Linked DNA regions of Homo sapiens: regions 1, 2, 4, 5, 6 and 7 are each reported to be linked to region 3. The links are microRNA targets in miRTarBase. Many come from high-throughput screens and were not tested one by one. Region 3 holds a microRNA gene; each other region holds the end of a gene's coding sequence. Distances are between the middles of the regions.

Region 1 (3,077 bases), not on the chromosome of region 3:
CATTTAATTCTTGCAAAAATCCTGAGGTATGATCACTTTACCCATTGTACAGATAGGGAAACTGAGGCTAAGAGGTTCGCCGACTCCTATAACACCACACAGTTCAGATATCCCTGGCCCCAACATAGAGATACACACACACAGTCACTCACATGGAGCAGTCTATCACTGGAGTCATAACTCCCCAGCCTTGGCTCTTCCCCATGGGAATGCAAAAGGGGTCGGTGAGGAGCAACAGTTACGAATCAACTGTGTTACAGGTGCTCTCTGTATATTCACAACCACCTGGCGAGGTAGTGACTGTTATCCCCTTTAGCACTGAGGAAACTGAGGCTCTAACAGCTGGCAAAGGCAGAGCTGGGACAAGACCAGGGCTCTGACCTCCTCCACCAATACCTCTGAATCCTCCCCAGCATCTACTGTGGTGCCCTTTGCTGGTCTTTCCTCCTAGGGTCTGAGGTTCCCCACTGGAAATGGGATCAGAATGTTCCCCTGCCTGGTTCCCAACAGGGTCAGAAGAGAGAACTTGGAAGAGTTGGATTTTGAGTGCTTTGTGTGTTGTGTGTATGTTGAGGGGAGAGAAGTTGGAATGCTCCCACACCTCCTGCAGCATCCCCACCCTCCCCTTCACCCCCACTGCAGCAGTGCCATGCTCTGGAAGCAAGAATCTGATCACACCCTCCTCCTTCTCTCATCACATTCGGGTGCCCTCTGTCTTCTCAATAACCCAGGTCTGATCTCCCTGGCCGCAACCAGCTGTGTGGCCTTGGTCAGGTCCATCCCTCCCCTTGGAATCTGTACTTCCCTAGGCTCTGTCATCTATTGGGGACGATGCCCAGGTCAGGCCTATACTCAGAGCCTTCTTCTCTTCATCTCCAGAACAGCCGTCTGCCTGTCTTCCTGGCTCGCTCCCTGCAGGAATGGTCTGGGGCAACCCCAGCAACACGCCCACCTGTGGCCAGGATGAATAGGAATCCAGTTCAGGCTTGGCTTCCATGGCAATCAAGGCCCACCAGGCCCCAGCAACCTTCCCTACCCCCCATTCCTTTTTGCTGCCCCCCTCCACACCAGGCATGTTCCCTGCCACACCATGCTGTTCCCCTCACCTGGGCTGCCCTCCCAACTCCTCTCTGCCTCTGGAGATGCTCTGCCATTCAAGACTTGGCTCAGGCTCCAGGTCCTCCCTGGGCCTTCTAGAGCCCCTGGTTCTCACTCCTCTGAACACTTCCAGCCTGGCTAATAGCCCACTGCATCCTGGCCTGGGGTACAGGTGGCCAGCACAGGTGTGGGGGCCAGCTTCCAACACAAGCACGGGTAGGTCCCTCTGCAGACCATGGGCTGCAAGAGGCCCGGCCTTGCCCACTGCAGGGGCCCTGCGCAGGGCTGGGCACGAAGCAGGTGGGTGTCCACCAATCTAGTATCCAAAACCCTGCTTGGTTCACCCCCACCTCTGTTGAAGGAAAGCAACACTGTGATGGAGAGGAGCAGCTGTGGATTCAAATCCTGGCTTGGCCACTTTCTAGTTGTGTGACTTGGTGCATCTGCCCTCATCTCCTCAGAGACAAAAATGGCAACACCTCCCTTCTTGGGTTACTATGAGGATTAAATAACAAAACCTCCAAGAAGCAGAGCCCGGTGTCTGGAGAGTGCTCAATGGACGTAGTTATTATTATCATCATCAGCACAGTGCGGGGCACATGGTGGGCATTCAGGGATGATGGCCCTTGTGTCACAGCCGACACTCTTGACCAGTGAGTCCTCTCTCCTCCCTTTGTTGACTCCTGACCGTCCACAAATGAGGTTCAGAATCCTCCATCCAGCATCTTCCCTGGTCACATGGTCCCAACCTTTTGCTCCACCCCCTTCTCTGTTCCCCCCGCAGTCCATGCTCCAGCCATCCTGACTCTGTCCCTGGATTTCTGGCTTACTGACACCTGAGCCTGTGCACAGGCCCTCCCTTCTGTATAGAGCACGCTTCCCATCTTGTGGACTTGCTTCCCATCTTGTGGACTCGGAGGGTTCCGAGCAGCCGTTGAGGCTGAGCTCCTATGACACCTCCTCCGTGAAGCCTCCCTCACTTTTCCATTACCAGTGAGGCCTGCCACAGCCTGATTTGTACTCTGATCCTGGCACGCATGAAGCCGTGTTGCCATTTGTTAACAGTCTGTCCTCCACTAGACTGTGAACTCCACCAGGGGGGGAACCAGGTCTGATTGCCTCTGTGTCCCCAGATACCACTTAGCACAGAGTCGAGCCCATAGTGGCTATCAGCAAGTGCTAGGCCCAGCCTGCCACCCACCCACCACTCACTTGGGGGCTGGAGGCATTGCACGCATGCGGGGCATGTGGGACTTGTGGGGGCAGCTGAGCAGCGAGGTTTATAGAGGAACCCAGGGCGGCAGCAGGAAGGATGAAGGATGAGTGTCTGAAACTGGGTTGGCAGGCTCAGGGCATAGCCAGCCTAAGCTGGGGGTCAAAGGCCCCTGGCCCCTTCACTCCCCCAGGGGCACACAGTGTCGGCGGCACGATGTGGGATGCCCCAGGAAGGGCAAGGCCATGGGGCTGGGCTTTCCTCCATCGACCCAGGACAGAGCTGGTGCTGAAGGCCCCATCAGCATGACTGGGGTGGAGATCTTGGGGACCTCCTTGGGGGGCCACAGTTGGGGGGAAGGGCACAGCCCATCCAACATGTCCATCTGGTGTGGCTGTGCCAGCAGGGAGTGTCCCACATGCAGAGCTCCCTCTGGGCTGCAGGAGGTGGGGACCTGGGTGGGCAGGTGGGCACAGCAGCAGGGGGCCCCAGGGAGCCTAATCCAGCGGGCCCTGGAAAATGAGGCGGACGCAGCCATGCTCGCCGGTAAGCCAGGCCCCGCAAAAGGGGCAGGCGGCATGGAAAGCATGGGTGCCGTGGGGCAGTGGTGTCTGGGCCCAGTAGCGGGCAGTCTTCTCAGAGCAGACGTGGCCGCAAGGTGCAAAGGCATGGCTAGGCGGCCCAGGGTCCAGGCAGAGGCCGGCCTCCTGGCCAAGCCATAGAGGCACATAAGGCCCCACAAGGCGGCAGAGAGGACATTCGCGCT
Region 2 (3,093 bases), 83 Mb from region 3:
CTCGGTAGTTGCAGGGCACTGCTTACTGGACGAAGGGGTAAATAGCATTCCTGGAGCCTTTGCTGTTAGTGCCTGTGGGCGCTGTTATTGGGAAGGCTTTGTTTTTCATAGCAGCTGGTGTGGAAATAATGGCTTGGTTCCTCTCTCTTGCAGAACCCAGCTTAGACTAGAAAGTCTAGAAGACACACACATAATGAAGGGGGAAGATGATGCTTTGTCAGACAAACATGGCTGCCCAGCCTACGTGAGCCCTGAGATCCTCAACACCACTGGGACCTACTCCGGAAAGGCTGCGGACGTTTGGAGCCTGGGGGTGATGCTCTACACCCTTCTGGTTGGACGATACCCCTTCCATGACTCAGACCCCAGTGCCCTTTTCTCCAAAATTCGGCGTGGACAGTTCTGCATTCCTGAGCACATTTCCCCCAAAGCCAGGTGCCTCATTCGCAGCCTCTTGAGACGGGAGCCCTCCGAGAGACTCACTGCCCCCGAGATCCTACTGCACCCCTGGTTTGAGTCCGTCTTGGAACCCGGGTACATCGACTCAGAAATAGGAACTTCAGACCAGATTGTTCCAGAGTACCAGGAGGACAGTGACATTAGTTCCTTCTTCTGCTAATCCCCAAAACCTCAGAAACCTCATAATTCTTAACACCTGGCATTTCCATTTCTAAAGATGGACAGGCCCTTTGGCGTGGTACCAACCAGATAATGACTGCATCAGGATGAAAGCTGCTGAACTCGGCATGGCGCCTCCTCTTCTCTGTTGGGATGAGTGACTTTATTGATTTGAGCAGCATATGCTGTGATTGGCTGCCCTGCAAATTTGTTTCCCTTAAGGAACCCTCACCAACTATCTCTGCTGGATTTGGGAGTTCCGCATCTTTTGTGGAGGGCAGAGTATGGACATCTTACACCCGGTGGTCAAGTGTGTAATAAACTTGAGCATTCGAATGGGAGAAAAAGCAAATCGCACAATGACATATTTTGAGTAATAACCGTATTTTTCACAGGGTGACAAATTGGGCCAATAAATCTGCCATCTTTGAACTCATCTTTGGTGGCTAGACTGCTACGGCAGCTTCTCTGATGGGAAAGTTCCTTTTTTGGCTTAACACTCACCCTTTCTTCACACTCACATTTACCAATGACTCTGCTCCGTTTTTGGAGCAGACTGTTTTAAGTTGCTCAGGAGCCTGATGGAACCATGAACCGAGACTCTTCTCTGTTTCCTGCCAAGACCTCATCTGCACTAATGCCTTCTCCCTGACCTTGACACTTCCCCCTTTAGCTATAAAAGCACTTACCAGCCGAACGTGGAACAGTATCACAAAAGATTCCATCTCCCAACGATTTCAGAACTCTGAGCTCAGAGAGACTCCAGATTTTAAAAAATAATTTGAGTGCTTGGAAACTATTAGCTTTTTAAGTTCCTTCCAAATATGTTAGTACCTACCCTTTACTTTTTCCCCAAGACCATCTCAGGGTGGAGCATTCTGTCTAAGAGAAGAAAGATAAGGAGGCTCCCACCCACCTCTCCCAAGAGCAGACATTAAACATCTTTGTGCTTTGAAGAGAGTGAATTTTGGATAGTCTTGTGATTCTCAGACTAACTTCCAGAATTATACTTTAACCCCTCCCAGATATGGTCCGCCTTTGGCATTGTGTGTACATCTGCAGTTTTGCATGGTGGGTTGTTAATATTTCAAATGTGTGGTTTATGAATACGTCTGTATAATCGGCTTCTGGAGTGAAACAGCAAACCCCAAATCTTCAAAGTTGGAAGGAACTTTAAAAATCATCCGGTCCAATCTCTTTCCTCTTTCTGCCACCTCCCAAGGCAGAAATCCCCTCTTCAGCTTCTTTTGTAGGTGGGAATCCAGCCTCTGTTAGATATGTCCAGAGATGGAAACTCACTCCCCTACAAAAGATGGAGCTTAATGGAGAAATTGCAACTTTCATTAAAAAACAAATTCAGATGAAATATCAGTAACTGTCTTGGACAGTGCTGAAATCAGGTGGTTAAACGGGTAAACAAAATATACTGTATTTTGAGAAATGGCACAAAAACAGGCAGTCATCTTTAAGGGCTATGCCTAGGCAAACTACTAACATGCATTGTGAGAATGCCGTGTATACCTCACGTACTGTGTACTTTGTACATATATTTTACCTTTTATACCTATGTTCGATTTTGTTTTGTTTTGTTTTGTTCTGGCTTTGAGGCTTGTTTTGTTGTCTGTGTCTGTCTGAATAACCTGCGTGTCTAAAACCACGTGAAATGTGAATGATTATTGGCAATATTACCTTGACAGAATCATGGGACTTTGAGAAGAGGGAGGACAGAGGCCTCTGTCGCACTAACGCTCTCGTGGTTGCTCGACTGTTGTATCTGTGATACATTATCCGACTAAGGACTCTGGGCTGGCAGGGCCTTCTGCCGGGAAAGCTAGAAACACTAGGTTCTTCCTGTACATACGTGTATATATGTGAACAGTGAGATGGCCGTTTCTGACTTGTAGAGAAATTTTAATAAACCTGGTTTCGTAAATAGGTGTGGTGAATTTCTTTCGAGTTCCATCTGCTTTGCCTTTTGCAATTTCATGCAGAGGTTGCAAAGGTCTCTGGCCTCAGGACTTACAGTCTAGTTGGGGGTGAGCAGCAAGGGGAAGGTGGAAAAGTAGAGATGATGAGGATCATCGATGACCTTTGGCAGACTTGAACCCATTTGCTTTTCTCATTTCAGTGGGCAAATTTATTTTGATGGATGAAGCCCATTGGGTGTTGATACGTGCTTTGGGTTGAATTTAGACTCGGGAAACATTTTTTATTTTTTATACTCTTTCATAGCAGAATCAGAATCAAGAAACGTTTGAAGGTGAGCATTCATAAATTAACCTTGAGTTGTAAAAATCAGCTTGTCTTTTTTGGGCCGTGGACCCTTGAGAATTTGATAAAGCTATGACCACTCCTGAGAACAGTGTCACATGTATAAAACAAAATTTTGTTATCATTGCAGAGGTTCACACAGATCTCTGAAGGCATCATGGGACTTCCGATTGTGAACCAATCCCTCTTCATTAGACTTAATTA
Region 3 (3,089 bases):
TTTAGTAGAGACGGGGTTTCACCATGTTGGCCAGGATCTCTTGACATCGTGATCCGCTCGCCTCGGCCTCCCAAAGTGCTGGGATTACAGGCGCGAGACACCGCGCCTGGCCACGTATGTGTAATTTCTAAAGGTTTCTCTGCCCTTGGTGTAGGGAAGAATGTTTGAAAAAAAGACCATTGAGAATACTTCAGGTAAGTTTTTTTTTTTTTACACTTACAAAATGCTAAATGATCAGGGGTCAACTATCAAGTGGTACTCTGTAAGGCAACCTTAAAAACTCACTGCTGACCCAGGCTCGGTGGCTCACACTTTTGATCCCAGCACTTTTGGGAGGCTAAGGCGGGCGGATCACTTGAGCCCAGGAATTTGAGACCAGCCTGGGCAACATAGCGAGACCCCCTCTCTACAAAAAATAAGAAAATTAGCTGAGCATCGTGGCCTGCACCTGTGGTTCCAGCTACTTGGGAGGCTGAGGTAGGAGGATCACTTGAGCCCAGGAGGCAGAGGTTGCAGTGAACCAAGATTGCGCCACTGCACTCCAGAACGAGACCCTTTCTCAAAAACCACCATCAACAACAACAAAAAACCCCACTCAATGCTGTCTTGGCAGTTTTCAGTGCTCAATGAGAAAACCTACTCTTAATGGAAAAAAAGTGGGGGAAAGGGGTTCCAGGAACTACAAAGCAAAGTGTGTCTTGGGAAGTTAGCTTTGTTGCACTCCAAATAAAAATTTGGCATTGGGTGGTAGTTATGCATACTCTACGCATCGACAATTCTCTAAGGACTCCAAAGTGCATGTCCTGGAAATTCCAACATATTTGCACTACGTTCCAGGTACACTAGAATGTTTATAGCCATGTTCTGAGTGGCCTCAGTCTGAACAAAATGCCCAACCAGAGTAGAATGGATTCACTGTTCTATTCACACTGGAATACTAGGCAACAATTAAAATTACCTATACATACACAGTACACCAATTTAATACTGATTGAAAACCACAAAACAACACACTGTGATCCACCCGCAAAAGTTCAAAAACAGGCAAAGGAAAACGACATCGCATGCACACATAGATGGTAAAGCTGTAAGGAAATGATCACACTAGTCAGGCTAGGAGACAATCAGGCTCCGAAAGGAGCACAGGGCATGGGTGAGAAACTCCTGGGGTGCCGGTAATGCCCTTTTCGTTTTTATCTGGGTGTTTTATTAATTCTTCTTTAAACGTGTATGTCGTATGCACTTTTCTGCGTATGCTATATCTGTTAAAAATTTATCGGCAGCCCAGCAGACAGATTCGTGCCTCTAAAGAGGTGGAAGCTCCAGAACGATCCGCCTCGCCATTAAGCGAAGGCAACTCCGAACGCTGAGAAACGCAGGCCCGGGGTCGGCCGGTGTCCTTACGGATTGGCGAGCGGGCGCACACCCCTCCTGCATTAAGGAGAGTTCTCAGGGTCACGCTCCGAGCGACCCTAGAGGGAGCGGCGGTGTCCTCGCCGCCGCCAAACCCACCTAGAGCCGCTCTCCGCGTCGGCCCCTCCACCGTCGCCGGCGACTCCGGACAGCCGCGGGGCGATTCTGGGGCTTCCAGACGAGGGAGGGGCCCGGGGGGAAGGAGGCGGCGACTCCCGCCGCCCCGCAGAGCCTCGGCGGCCAGAGCTACCCCAAGAAGGCCAGACCCCGCCGTCCGCGGCTCCGCGGGCCCCGATAGGGTGGGCGTGGCCGCCGCGCGCCGGACGTACCTCTCCACCGCGAAGGAACTACCTCGCCAGTTCCCGGCGACAGAGGACAGATTATTTCCAGGACCGCTCCCGCCACCCCTCCCGGGCAACCCACTAGACGTCCCCTTTCTAATTTGGAGTGCGGGTGCGGGCGCACGCGCACTGCCGAGCTTCCGCGAGGGCGCGACCGGACGGCGGAGGAGGACCCGTCGCCGCAGCCTCCAGGGCGGAGCGCGTGCTCGCCTCGACACGCAGCGAACTGGTGGCGGGGGCGCGCCCGGCGGCAGCGGCGGCGGCGGCGGCGGCGGCGGCGGCGCGGCGGCGCGGGTCGGCCGGGGCGCGAGCGTGCGCAGTGGCTCCTCGGCCTCGGCTCCAGCCAGGGCGGCGGCGCTGGGGAGGAGCGGTGTGGGCGGCCGGGGGCGGGGACGCGGGGCGGCGGGCGTGTCCGAAGTCGCGCGCGGCTGGCGCGCGGTCCCGAGTGAAAGGAGAAGGAGGGGCGCTGGGGGTGACGGTGCGGAGCCGCTGCCAGCGCTGGGCGAGAGTCGGCGGCCGGATCCGAGGAGCAGGCGGGCCTGAGGCCGAGTCAGCTGCGCGGGCCCCCGGATCCCCCGACAGAGCGGCGGCGGTGTCTGGCCAGGCGGTAGGCGCTGCCTGGCCGCGGCGGGGAAGATGTTCAGCGTAGAGTCGCTGGAGCGGGCGGAGCTGTGCGAGAGCCTCCTCACTTGGGTACGTGGGGGCCGCGGGCCGGCGGGAAGACCCCCTCCCCCCGCCACCTACCGGGACCCTCCACGCGCGGCCCGTGGGGCGAGCGCTGCGGGCGACGGTGCCGTCACATCCGGGGCCTGGGGCGGGCGGGGCGAGGAGGCTCGGCCCAGGGTCCGAGAGAGACTTGCCGGGCCTGAGGCGTCGCTGTTCCGGGCGGACCCCGGCCGGGGCTGGGCTGGGAACGCGGCGGGCGACTCTGGGATCCGTGCGGCTGCTCGCAGCTGGGGCTGCGCTGCGCTCTGGGGGTGGCCGAGCCTGACTGCCCCGCGTCCAGGACCCGCCGCCGCTCCTCGCCTTTGTTGCCGCGTTCGCGGAGGACGGGCCCGGCTCCGGCCCGGGAACTGAAAGGACCTGTGAGGGAGCGTGGGGAGAATGCGGGAGGCGCCCGGGGACCCCGTTTCGGATGCAAGGCACCGCTGGCGGTGGGAGTGCGCGAGGGGCGGACGCCTGTCAGAGGCGTCGGGCAGACGTTTAAAGGAGTCTGGAGGTGTCTGGGCGTCAACAATGGAACTCGAAGGCCTTGGGGGACAGAGTCGTGGGATTCTGATTTTGAATTCTTAAACGGTTTTAGATTCCTCATACTTTGAAGTAAATACATGTTCA
Region 4 (3,000 bases), not on the chromosome of region 3:
CTAATAAATTCAAAAAGTGAGTTTAAAGTGTTTAAAAATTAAGATGAATGATTTCAAATGAGGTATGTCAAAGACTGTGGTAATAATTTAGCTATACACTTCTCAATAATACCCCAGCTCCCTAAATGGCTTTGCTTTCACGTGTGTACTCAATATTTCTTTCTTCTTAAGATTCTAGGATGGTGCCTGATTTGTTCAGCGTCTTTCTTCTCTCTGCTCACCACATGTTATGCTCGCTGCCGATCTAAAGTTAGCTACCTTCAGCTGAGTTTTTGGAAGACATATGCACAAAAGGAGAAGGAGCAGTTGGAAAATACATTTCTGGACTATGCCAACAAGCTGAGCGAGAGGAACCTGAAATGTTTTTTTGAAAACAAGAGGCCAGATCCTTTTCCCATGCCTACGTTTGCTGCCTGGGAGGCTGCTTCAGAGCTGCATTCTTTCCACCAAAGCCAGCAACACTATAGCACCCTCCACAGAGTGGTGGACAATGGTCTGCAACTTAGCCCTGAGGATGATGAGACGACAATGGTCCTTGTGGGTACTGCCCACAATATGTAGCTCATCCACCATCAATGACTCATGGTGTTGAGTGGCATGCTCATTCTGTGATCCTCCTAACGTATCACCAGCAACCTGTGTGTCTCTGTATTTTCTTACATTTGGAGTATGTTTACAAGACAATAACACAAAGGAAACTGCTTTGAAGCTCTCAAGTGGAACATCAGGATGTGCTCAAATTGATGCTGAGGGGTGACAAAGGTGCTCTTGCATTGGTGGAGAGGGGCTCAGTAGGCCTAAATGTTGCTCCAAGATCTAAGATTTTATCATTCAACAGACAGACTCATGTGAGAGGGCTCATCAGTCTCTGTAAATATTGGTTGCAGAATTTAGGGGCAGAAGCAATGGCTTGTGAGTGAGCAAGTTACTCTTAACATAGGTTGCCCTACACAGTGGCTCCTGCAGTGTGATCAGCAGGAGTCTCTGTCCTACAAATCTACACTTTTAAGGATGTATGAAATTGTGGAATTCATTCCCTCAGGATCTGAAGATCTCAGTTCTCAAAAATCACAAGTTGCAAGAATATGATACCTAAAATTGAAAGTTTTTCACATGTTTTCACTGTATACTGAAAATACTCCCCTGGAAGCAGGGCTGCATCATAATTTTTGTGGGCTTTATGTACTTTTGCCTTTGCGAACCATTTCCTACATTCAAAATAGTAGTAACAAATATATATATATATATATATATATATATATATATATATATATATATATACACACACACAGAAATATATATTTATAACTGCATTGATAAAAGGTGAATATATTAGCATTTTCTTCAACCTAAAAGTTTATGTATTTTCTTCTGATTTTAAAAGAAATTAAAAACATTTTAGTGGGCCCTTACAAGTATTATGGTCCTTAGGCACAGTGCTTACTAGGCCGTGGGTATGTCTTAGTGCGTTTGGGCTACTATAACAAAATATCATAGATAGGTGGCTTATACAAAATAGAAATTTATTTCTCACAGTTCTGGAGGCTGGGAAGTCCGAGGTCAGGCTGCCAGCATGCTCAGGTTCTGGTGAGAGCAATTTTCCAGGTTGCAAACTGCTTGCTGACTTCTCAGTGTCCTTCCATGGTGGAAAGTGCAAATAAGCTCCCTTGAGCATTTTTATAAGGCACTAATCCCATTCCTGGAGGCTCCACCTTCATGACCCAATTACTTCTCAAGGCTCTGCTTCTTAGTACTATCAGCTTGGGGGTTAAGATTTCAACATATGAAATTGGGGGAGACACAAACATTCAGACTATAGTAGGGTAAATTGACCTTGGCTAAAGGTCTGGGGACACTGTCCAAAGCAGTACTGGCATAAAACTGCATTGCAGTCTTACATTTATCAGAAATAATGCAAATCTTGCATTCTACAATGTACTATATCCATGTTAGTATGTACATATATATGTGTATGTATATATGTACATAAATTCTCCTTAAATCTCTGAGAAGAATTGTGCTTTAAAAAAGAACTATGTTTTGTGCTGTGGCTCATACCTTACAGTGGTAGTCTATGTCTCTTAGTTTGAGAAAGCTGAATATTAACTTCTTATTAACATGAAACATGATGGCAAACTGAATCCTACAAGTATAGGACCCAGAACATATCTATGTTATTGTCATTTACAAGAAGAAATATGTATTTGGTCTTTCTTCCTATTCCTGGTGCAGAGCTCCTAAAACCTTTGGGACCTCCCAAGTGATGTGTCTGGTAGTACGCGAATGAGATGACTGATAGTTAGGGGCTTCTGAATGGCCTCAGAATAGGGTCTGGTTGCCACGGGAACCAACCATGTGTTTAGAGGGTTGGAACTTTCAGCCCCACTCCCAGACCTTGGGGAAGGAAGAGGGGCTGAAGGTTGAGTCGATCACAAATGGATAATGATTTAATCAATCATGCCTAAGAATAAAGCTTCCCATAAAAATCTAAAGGACAAGGTTCAGAGAGCTTCTGCATTGCTCAATACATGAGGAGTGGTGAGCCCAAAGGGGCCGTGGAAGCTCCGTGCCCCTTCCCCCAAACCTGTTCCTGTGCCTCCATCTGGCTGTTTCTGAGTTATATTATTTTATAATAGACTGATGATAGTAAATAAAGCCCTTTCCTGAGTTCTGTGAGCTACTCTAGCAAATGGTGAAATCTGAGAAGGAAATCATGGGAACCTCTGCTTTGTAGCCACGTCAGATAGAAGATGTGAGTAACTTTGGAACCTACTGCTTGTGACTGGTGTCTGAAGTTGGGGGAGATCTTATGGGACTGAGCTCTTAACCTGCTGGGGATCTGCACTTAATGCCGATTAATGCCAGAATTGAATTGTATGATATCCAGTTGGTATTGGAGAATTGGCCAGTGTGGGAGAAAACCCACACAGTTGGTGGCAAGGAGTGTTCAGTGTTGAGTGTGAATGTCAATAAAAAAAGGTTTGTTTTTTCTACGTACAA
Region 5 (3,093 bases), not on the chromosome of region 3:
ACCCCAGCACTGAAGCCTCTGGTTACCAACCCAGCACTGAAGCCTCTGGTTACCAACCAGAGGTGACACCTATTTAGCACCACACAGCCCAGCCCTGACAAATCACAATGGACTCTGACTGAGGGCTGCAGCAGGGCTGGGGGGCCCCATGCATGTGCCAGGAATGATCACTTTAGTTGCTGGATTGTGGAGTGAATCCAGGGTCCCCAGGGAGGAGCAGGGGCAGAAGGGGTAGGATACTCAGAGAATCTGAGCCATGGTTGTTTACCAACTTTCTTAGTTGTAAGAATTTCTTAGTATTTTCAATACTTATTTTAAATATTTGAATAGCTAGTATGGCTGCATCAGTACAGTCCAGCCCTGCTACCAACAGTGCCCATACAATCATATCAAATCCAATTTAAAACCATATATTTTATTGATGTTCTTCAAGGACAATACAGGGCCATGTGTACAAATGCTACTCAAGTCTCACATCTGGCAACCTCCCCACCGTCATCCCCCATTGACCAGTCTGCAAGCAGCCAACATCCTGTAGGTCTCCCTGTTGCCCTTCCCCAGGATGTCAGGCCTCACCGTGCTGAGCCTTCAGGAGGCTGGAAATAGCAGGGCTGGCTTCTAAGCTTGAGCTCTGGAGCCAGGAAAGAGTCAAGGCCAAAATTGCCCAGATCTTCCCCTCCTCCCTCTCCCTCCCATTGCTTAAGTATGGCCAGAATTGTGGGTGAAAATGCCCCCAGCGACTCCTCCATTGAGGCAGCCTAGGCTTCCCCTCTTCAGCCATCTCTATCACATTCTTTATTTCCAAATGACCTGCCCCACCAACCACCAAGATGGCAGAGTGACCATTTTGCAGGGAGTGTGAATCAGTGCACAGACGGCAGTGACAAGGTGCCCCTGATGGCATGAATCTTGTCATCCTGTTCATCACTGCATTGCCAGTGCCTGGAAGAGGCTGGGAACGTAGTTGGCACTCAATAAATATACGTAGGATGGATGAGTGAAGGAATGAGTATGGGAGGGAGAAATGTGAGCAGGTGGAGCCAATACTACATTAGCTCTCTAGGGGGTGTGAAGGCAGAACCACAGTAAAGTCCTCCCAATCTCTGCTCAAGAACCCAGGCTGTTGCGCAGCTATCAGCGGGTCACTGCAGTTGGCGGTTGGACATTGCAGGGCATGGATTCAGCACTGCTGCCTGCATGGATGTCATATTGGCTTTGGGACCCAGTCAGGAGGGGGCACTTGTGTTGTCCCTACTCCCTTATATGCCCCAGAGGTCTGGTCCTCTAGGTTTCAGAAAACACACAGCAGTGCCTCCACCGGAGTCAGTCAGATGCGCAGGGATGGTCTGGGAATTGCACCCTTATATTCTGGTCATCTCCACTCCTCAGCCTTAGCTCACCACTGCCCCCCATGCCCTGCCACTGACAATGACACTGCTCCATCTCCCTGTCCTCAAATGTCAGTCCCCTCAACCACCCAGGTAGCCCTGTCTCTGCAGAGACTCTCTCTTCAGTGGCTGGGTTGGGTCCTGATTTTCAGACCCCTCCCATGCCCACACTCCCCTCTAGGAAAGCAAATATCTCACAGGCATCTCTGCAGATCTTGCCTCTGGGTCCAGCAATCACAACCAGGACATCAGAACCTTGGGGTTGGAAGGAATGTGTAAGCTCACCTAGAATGACCCTGTACAGAAATCCCTTCCACAGCATGCCTGGCAGACGACTGCCTAGACTCTGCTGGAATACCTCCAGTGATGGGGCACTCACTACCTTCACAGGCAGCCATTCAAACATTGAAGAGTTTCAGCTGCTGGAATGCCCTTTGTATAGGGCATAAATGAACCCAATTGTCCCTCTCACTTCTCCCTTTCCCCTAGGCATTATTCCTATATGTTTCTAACAACACTTCTCACCACCACCCATCTCTCTCTCTCTCTCTCTCACACACACACACACACACACACACACACTTCCATATGGTTATACAGTCGAATATCCCCTTCATTTATCAGTAATTATCTTTCCCTGTCCCTTCTTCCTTGCCTTCCCATCATCTGGCAAAGACCTGGGGGCTGGAGATCAAGTAGAAAGGCTGGAAGAGTTCCAGGGACAGGAAGCATCCAGCCAGGTCCTGGACTGGGCTGGGCCGGCCAGATGGGGCAGGGTGGACAGGGAATAACATTTGGAAAAAGCAGGCCATTGATTGCTGTCTCCCAGAAAAAGGGTCTTGAACCTGGTGGGGGGTGGTGAGGGAGCAGCAAGCTACTAAGTTCTTTTTCCTACAGAGGGGATGCGGACACACACCCACTCTTTCCCAACTCCCCTAGCAGTTGGCAGAGCTGACTTGGCTGCCTCTTACACGTGGTGATTTTAAACATTTGCCAGCCTCTAGGTCCCAGGGAGTCTCATACCAGCAGCAAGAATCCACTCCCCTCTCCCAACATGGGGGCTGAGAGGAAGGGCTCTAGCAGACAGCAGTGATGAATGAGACACGGTGGAGAATGGATGAGCCAGGAAGAGGGGGAAAGCAGGGATCCCAAGGGGACGGAAAGAAAGCAGAGGCAGCCTAACAGCTAGCAGCCACCTGGCTGGCTCGTGAGGAGCCTAGAAATGCCTGGGGGGACATTTTTCCTCCTTGTCATGATCCACCAGCTCACGCTGTTCTCATGGGTGGAAGGTGAGGGGAAGATGCTAGGACCTTACCAGCACAAGGTTGTAGTGAGTCATGGGTGGAGACAAGGCTGCCATGGTTTTATGCTCAGGAGGAGTCAAGACAGAGACAGAGAGATAAATGACGGGAGTGTCTACTACTTATCCTGCTGCTTGGAGCTCTCACTTCCGACATTGAACATGGGGACCAGCAGGCCCAGCAGCCACCTCTTTCCGAAGACCTCTTGTAAGTTCTTGCGCCAGGGCCGGGCCCTCACTGCCACCCCCTTCCGCACCTGGTGGCGGGTCTGCCCGCGGAGGATCAACAGCAGCTGGTGGCAGCAGAAGCCGGCGCAGGCCAGGCCGATGGCGAACCAGAGGTAGAGCATGAGGATGACGAACATTTCAGAACCCAGGACAGCTCCTGCAGGGCACGGGGAGGGG
Region 6 (3,093 bases), not on the chromosome of region 3:
CTTGTTTTCTCTAAAAGCTGTTCACACCTGAGCTGCGGGGTGCAGTGGCTTCCTTTCCCACCCATTGGTGGATGCGTGTGAGCCGTCTTCCCACCCGTTGGTGGATGCGTGTGAGCCGTTTTCCCGCCCGTTGGTGGATGCGTGTGAGCCGTTTTCCCGCCCGTTGGTGGATGCGTGTGAGCCGTTTTCCTGGCTGTTGATGGATACATGTGAGCTGTTTTCCTGCCCGTTGGTGGATGTGTGTGAGCTGTTTTCCTGGCTATTGGTGGGTACACGTGAGCCCTTTTCTCGTCCGTTGGTGGAGGTGTGTGAGCTGTTTTCCTGCTTCTTGGTGGATGCTTGTGAGCCATTTTCTGTGTTTCCTTGCCCAGACCCTGCTGTCTGAATTGCATCCCCATTCTAACCCTGGCTCTTCTTTGCAGCTCCAGATCCTGTTTGCGGGGGAAGCCACACATCGCACGTTTTACTCCACGACGCACGGGGCTCTGCTGTCGGGATGGAGGGAGGCCGACCGCCTCCTCAGTCTGTGGGCCCCGCAGGTGCAGCAGCCCAGGCCCAGGCTCTAGCTGGGCCCAGCCTACTCTGTTCCACCCGTGTCGGGGGTAGGCTGGGACCCTCATTTCTTCTGACAGATTTCAGTCTGGCTTGAAATTTGGGGATGTTAATGAGGGTCCTCTGGTTTTTGGTAACCAGGGCCACCTTCTCAGTTCTTGTGTCTGTTATTGGAGTCTGGCCAGGGTTGACTTGAGCTGAGACACCAGATGCTCACGGAGATGCTGGACACATAAAGCAAGTTACAGCCACAGCTCCCAGAGCCATCTTTCCTGCCTTGAGGCTGTCCTGTCCTTCCTGCCTTGGGGCTCCAGCATCTGCTGCTGTTGTCTTTGTCTTGCTCCGGGCCCAGGTTGCACAGGGCCCTGTGTCTCCAATCCCCACAACCACACATGGCCCCACACTCTGGGTTCCCTGAACTCTGGGTCCTGTAGTTGCTTCTCGTGCCCCTGCATTCTCGTGGCTGCTGCCTGGGATGACAGCATAGCTGACAACCCTCCTCTTGCTCATCAACTGATGCTGCATCAGGCGCCCACTTCACAGGTTCGCAGGGCACTGGGGAGATGAGGGGTGCCCTGCCCTGCCCTGAGGCCGGGGGTTTTCTGGAGGAAGTGAATACATAATAAGGCCTGAAAAGAGAAACGGTGCCCAGCCCATGGGAGCCAGGGAGTGTGTGGGGCGTGGGCAGTGCTGGGGTGAGTGTGCTGGGTGCTGGGGGGTGTTGGGGTGGGGGCAGTGCTGGGGTGCTGGGGGGTGTTGGGGTGTGGGTAGTGTTGGGTGCTGGGGGGTGTTGGGGTGAGTGTGCTGGGTGCCGGGGGATGTTGGGGTGTGGGCAGTGCTGGGGTACCACGTGGTATTGGGGTGAATGTGCTGGGAGTCCAGGCCCCTCTCCGGCCCCTCCACCCCAGCCTGGATCTGCAGGGCTCCTCTCTTCTCACCCTCTGGTCTCTGTTCAAATTGCCCCTCCTAGGATGTTCCCTGACCCCACCCTCCCGAGCCCCAGCCTCCCTCTGTAGCCAGCAGCCCCACCTGCATTTGCTGTGTCACCAGACTGTTCTCTCTGGGGACACCTGCCCATCAGACGCCTGGGAGAGAAATTCAGATTCCACAGGGTTTTATTGTGGTTTTGTGCTCCTAGGACCATGAGGGAATGCAGCTTCCTTAAAGTACAAAAATCTTTATCATTGACATTTAGGGTTTCATCAATTCTGTATCCCAGGGAGAAAGGCAGCAAGACCCAGGCTGCCCCCTCTGGGTGTGAGGGACCGGCTTGGTGAGGAGGGGGCTTGGGGGCATTGACCTAGCAGGAGGCCCTGACTGCCCCCACTCAGCCCAGAAACCACCTGGGAGGCTTCTGTCTTCCACGGAGGGGCCACTCTCTCATGCCCAAAAATATTTACAGCTAGGCGTTAGGGTATTAGGTGGTTTAAGAACATCAGAACCATGGCAATATTTTTGTACTTAGAATTTGAGCATGTTTGGTATTTTCAGTAGCTTGTTTAAAAAATTCCAGTAGAGGCTGGGTGCCATGGCTCATGCCTGTAATTCCAGCACTTTGGGAGGCTGAGGTGGGCAGATCACCTGAGGTCAGAGTTCGAGACTAGCCTGGCCAACATGGTGAAACCCCATCTCTACTAAAAATACAAAAAAAGTAGCCGGGCGTGGTGGTGCGCACCTGTAGTCCCAGCTACTCAGGAGGCTAAGGCAGGAGAACTGCTTGAACCCCGGGAGGCGGAGGTTGCAGTGAGCCAAGATCACGCCACTGCACTCCAGCCTGGCGACAGAGCGAGACTCCGTCTCAAAAATAAAAATTCCGGTAGAGTAATACTCTTGTAACGCAGTGTGCAATTGAGCAGTTGCTGACTGCTGATTTAGAGTTGAAATCCGACTATATTTATGTCTAGTCTTGGACAGTGGAGAATATTTCAGCCTCATTAATTAATCGGTTTAATTTAGCAGAACTGCAGTCAGTATTTGGAAACAGTTTGTTATATTAAACCCTGAAGTACTTGAGGCTGCGCGCGGTGGCTCATGCCTGTAATCCCAGCATTTTGGGAGGCCGAGACAGGTAGATCACTTGAGGTCAGGAGTTGGAGACCAGCCTGGCCAACATGGTGGAACTCCATCTCTACTAAAAATACAAAATCAGCCGGCGTGGTGGCAGGCGCCAGTAATCCCAGCTACTCCGGAGGCTGAGGTGGGAGAATCCCTTGAACTCAGGAGTTGGAGGTTGCAATGAGCGAGATCGTGCCACTGCACTCTTGGGCAACAGAGCGGAGACTCCGTCTCAAACAAAACAAAACAAACAAAAACCCTGAAGTACTTAAAAAGAAAATGAAGAGATTACATTTATAAGGTAAATTTAAAGTATTTGAGAGATTTTAACCAAATTGTAAAAAGAGATTGCTAAATTTTTACACTTATACTCAGGATATGCTTAAGGGAGAACGATGATTTTTAATATTTAATGAATGTTAATAAATCTGCGAATTACTTAAACCCACAAAACCCAGGAACCTCCCCGTCCCCCCGGGTCTCCTC
Region 7 (3,093 bases), not on the chromosome of region 3:
TTCTTTTTAACACAAATGAAATGACTTGCCATTTTAACAAATCCTCAATTCTAAAAGTGATCTCTCAGGGGGCTTTGAACTAAGGTCGGCAAGATTTGAAATGGGGCTTCAAAATTTTAAATAATAATTTTAAAATACTTCTGGAATAGCCCAAAAAGTAGAAGTCACTTCTATTAAGTTTTAAGTAGATATACACACTCACTCCAATTTTACTGTAGAAATGGACAGATTGTCTAAAGCCTGCTTTCTATTCCCCCAGAGCCTGATTGTTATTTATACTCCTTGGTTTTGGTTATTGCAGAACTAGGGCTCTGGTCAGAAATAACACCTTACATACCCGAATACTTTCCTGTGGAAGCTTTACATTGCATTTTCCATCCTGAAATTCTCACCTTAGACCTTACAGGCCCAGGAGAGGGTGTGAATATTGTTTTCAGTTTACAGCTAAAGCCCCTTACTAATTTGGGCTATACCTGAATCAAATCATCACATCATTTAGATTAATCCCAATAGGCTTATCCAAGCGGTTCCCACTAACCTCACAGAGAAACAAACAGTTAACATTGTATTTTCACACTAAGCTGCCTAAGGGCTTGGCTGCTAATGAGTTAGCTGATAGGTAGACAGAATAAGCGTGTCAATTCCAATCAGTACACGCCCTGCTCCTCTAGTTTCTGCTGAATTATGCAGTGGGTGGGAATGGTTGGCCACTCAAAACAGTCTTCCTATGGGGCTCTTCCACCATAAGTTGGATCAAAACTCCACAAATGTATTTCAAGGTGCCCTTTAAGTCTCTCAAATTTAGGGACTTTTAAGTGACAAGCCATGAGAAGTTAATCACAGGCTTGAAAATACCTGGAACCACAGAACAGCCCCCACGGAACAGGCTGAATATGGTTAAATAAGTTGGCTGGTACATAAAGCTTTTCAATGTACAGCCAGTCTTGTTGGATACAGTGTCTTCTTATATAATACAATGGAACTGTGCTAAACAGTTTCAAAGTTGAGAAGAATCCAAATGTATCACCTATAAAAAATTCATAATTTTAGTTTATTTTAGACTTTGGTACTGAAACACTGTCTACATTCTTGACACTTGAAAATGACATGGTCACTTCAGTGCCTCTGCATGTTGTGTAAAAAAAAAAAAAAAACTCAAAAAAGGAAAGCAGGACAAGGATGTGTCATTACAAGACACAGTATGCTGTACAAACAAAACCTAAATTATATATAAATACACCCCCACCCCAGAACCCTGTCTTCCCTCACTACCTGATCAAAGCAATGCCAAGGGTCCCTCCCTCCAGGGCCAATGTAGCTTTTAAAGTCCAGAACCCAGGACTTTAAGCATCCCTTGCCTTGCGGTGACGTTTACAGTACTGCAACCTCCTGTTGGAGTCACCTGTTTGATCAGTTCCGTAAGTGCAGGGTAACACCTACAGCTTAATTGGAAGCATTCACTCTACTGGCTGGATTCAAAGACCTGGAGTCCTGGGAGTTAACCTTTCAGATAAACTAACTGGATCATTTCCTAATCTGGATCCTATCTAATCCTACTATCTCCTCAGAGCCAACACAGTAGGAAGCATCTTCTACTCTGAAGCTTCCAAAGGCATTACTTAGGGATATTGGTGAGGGTCACATAAGAAAAGTTATACAATGAGCTAACAGCTTAAGTTGATATAAATTACTTCCAAGTAAGTTATTCAGGGCCGTTTGCTTCTGCTTTACACTGCATTCCACAGTCATTTTCATATTATTCTTTTAAAAGTTTATACTATAGTCACTTTAAAAATTGTCTAAGCAATCACCTCTTTGTGTTTTTGATTAATAACAACTTAATGAGCTATTATATAAATCAAGAGAGAAATAATTAGTCTTAAGGAAGCCAATAATGTGCTAATTCCCAGTAAGGAGAAAAAGCAATGTAAATAGAATTTTACATAACCAACAATAACTTGGAAAGCAGTTTTATCAAAATGGTTTTGCAAAGGTTTCCCAAAAGCACTTACAGCAGTTTATATCAAGAGATCCTAAGTTTAGGGGTATGGAGAATCTCAATTCTTTAAAGCAGAAATTCACCTGTTTCATAATTGTAATATGTAATTTTCTCCCCTTGGACCTAAGATATTTATACATTCAAAAGTTTACAACTTGCTGTTCTTGAGACATTGTTCATTCTTTAATACATACATTGAGTATAAATAAATAACTACAAGAAAGCTTCAACAATCTGAATTAACATTATGCTGTGCAAAACAAAAACAAAAACAAAAACAAAAAACAAAAAAAAAGTCAAACCTTGAACAACCTACATTCTATGTAAATACCCTGACTAAAATATTGGTTGTGCTACACAATTCCACTTTAGTGCAGAAATGCATTGATTTCACTGTACCGTTGTTGTTGGCTTTTTAAGTGTCTTTAGCACTTCTGTTTCTAAGCATTGCCTTGCTTTGAAAAGATGAATAATTTGCTACCAAATCACAAATCATCACAAATCCATTTTAGTTTGGTCTGAATAAAATCCAGCATAAATGTATTATTTTATTCTGGGTATAATGGCTCGGTGTCTTTGTCCCAACAGCTTTCTTCTTAAGGGCAAACCACCCTTAAGTGAAACTTGCCATTTGTTTTTGTTTTCTTTTTAAGTCTCCAGATCTTGCTAGGACACTTCTTCCAGACCAACAGTCAGATAGTTGTGGCACGTGATCCTATTTGAAATAGAGGTGGTTTAAATCAGCCAAGCTTGGTGATCTGGAGGTCTCCATTTATCTTTATGGTGTCAATTGCAGATAACGTTTGAATGCGATGGTAAAAATCAAAAAGTTGGTGTCCATCCACAAACACTCGGAAACGTGGGTGCTCACAAAGAATTTCCACCTGGAAGAAACAAAATAATAATCCACAATTTCAATGAACGCTACTGGGGAAAACAAACAATACTTCATTTTAGAGAAAGAAAGGCAGTATCTTCAGTGGTTCACAAACATCAGAATGCATTGAGACCTGCAGAGGGCTTGTTAGAACACAGATTGTTGGGCTCTACCTCCAAAATTTCTGATTCCTGTGTAGAATGTAAGTGTAAAAGCT

What was found. Region 3 holds the annotated microRNA hsa-miR-4469 (GCUCCCUCUAGGGUCGCUCGGA, at 1,462-1,483, opposite strand). A microRNA usually pairs through its seed, bases 2 to 8, with sites in the 3' UTR of a target mRNA and lowers its output. Matches are read on the target gene's strand: a 7mer-m8 pairs with bases 2 to 8, a 7mer-A1 pairs with bases 2 to 7 and ends in A, and an 8mer does both.
Region 1: miRTarBase lists PELI3 as a target of hsa-miR-4469. Seed matches in the 3' UTR shown: 7mer-m8 at 2,738-2,744 and 7mer-m8 at 2,070-2,076.
Region 2: miRTarBase lists TRIB1 as a target of hsa-miR-4469. Seed matches in the 3' UTR shown: 7mer-m8 at 2,335-2,341.
Region 4: the mRNA of CALHM5 is a reported target of hsa-miR-4469. The part of its 3' UTR that is shown has no 7-base or 8-base seed match.
Region 5: the mRNA of ZDHHC22 is a reported target of hsa-miR-4469. Seed matches in the 3' UTR shown: 7mer-A1 at 1,862-1,868, 7mer-A1 at 1,443-1,449, 8mer at 685-692, 7mer-m8 at 680-686 and 7mer-A1 at 540-546.
Region 6: the mRNA of PAOX is a reported target of hsa-miR-4469. The part of its 3' UTR that is shown has no 7-base or 8-base seed match.
Region 7: miRTarBase lists LGALSL as a target of hsa-miR-4469. Seed matches in the 3' UTR shown: 7mer-m8 at 1,298-1,304.

What each region holds. Positions count from the first base shown.
Region 1 is chr11:66,475,899-66,478,975 of GRCh38, reverse strand. It overlaps PELI3 (pellino E3 ubiquitin protein ligase family member 3), which reads right to left. Exons shown (of 8, transcript NM_145065.3): 8 at 1,639-3,077. The coding sequence ends at 2,809. The region is part of intron 1 of DPP3-DT (DPP3 divergent transcript); the gene reads left to right. Among named protein-coding and RNA genes, the nearest start is that of DPP3-DT, 2.8 kb to the left of the region's middle. RefSeq lists enhancers at 655-1,248, 1,886-2,706.
Region 2 is chr8:125,435,853-125,438,945 of GRCh38, forward strand. TRIB1 (tribbles pseudokinase 1) reads left to right here. Exons shown (of 3, transcript NM_025195.4): 3 at 154-2,551. The coding sequence ends at 619. Among named protein-coding and RNA genes, the nearest start is that of TRIB1, 7.0 kb to the left of the region's middle.
Region 3 is chr8:42,894,742-42,897,830 of GRCh38, forward strand. It overlaps MIR4469 (microRNA 4469), which reads right to left and starts at 1,534; the gene lies at 1,456-1,534. RNF170 (ring finger protein 170) reads right to left here and starts at 1,864. Exons shown (of 7, transcript NM_030954.4): 1 at 1,743-1,864. It overlaps HOOK3 (hook microtubule tethering protein 3), which reads left to right and starts at 2,237. Exons shown (of 22, transcript NM_032410.4): 1 at 2,237-2,447. The coding sequence starts at 2,391. RefSeq lists an enhancer at 981-1,542 and silencers at 1,449-1,660, 1,456-1,815, 1,996-2,785, 2,796-2,855.
Region 4 is chr6:116,515,429-116,518,428 of GRCh38, forward strand. It overlaps CALHM5 (calcium homeostasis modulator family member 5), which reads left to right. Exons shown (of 2, transcript NM_153711.5): 2 at 172-3,000. The coding sequence ends at 561. The region is part of intron 3 of TRAPPC3L (trafficking protein particle complex subunit 3L); the gene reads right to left. Among named protein-coding and RNA genes, the nearest start is that of CALHM5, 5.3 kb to the left of the region's middle.
Region 5 is chr14:77,130,876-77,133,968 of GRCh38, forward strand. It overlaps ZDHHC22 (zDHHC palmitoyltransferase 22), which reads right to left. Exons shown (of 3, transcript NM_174976.2): 3 at 395-3,073. The coding sequence ends at 2,808. Among named protein-coding and RNA genes, the nearest start is that of ZDHHC22, 9.4 kb to the right of the region's middle. RefSeq lists an enhancer at 2,913-3,093.
Region 6 is chr10:133,390,890-133,393,982 of GRCh38, forward strand. PAOX (polyamine oxidase) reads left to right here. Exons shown (of 7, transcript NM_152911.4): 7 at 423-805. The coding sequence ends at 566. Among named protein-coding and RNA genes, the nearest start is that of MTG1, 1.7 kb to the right of the region's middle. RefSeq lists a silencer at 3,060-3,093.
Region 7 is chr2:64,458,075-64,461,167 of GRCh38, reverse strand. It overlaps LGALSL (galectin like), which reads right to left. Exons shown (of 5, transcript NM_014181.3): 5 at 1-2,883. The coding sequence ends at 2,740. Among named protein-coding and RNA genes, the nearest start is that of LGALSL-DT, 4.7 kb to the right of the region's middle.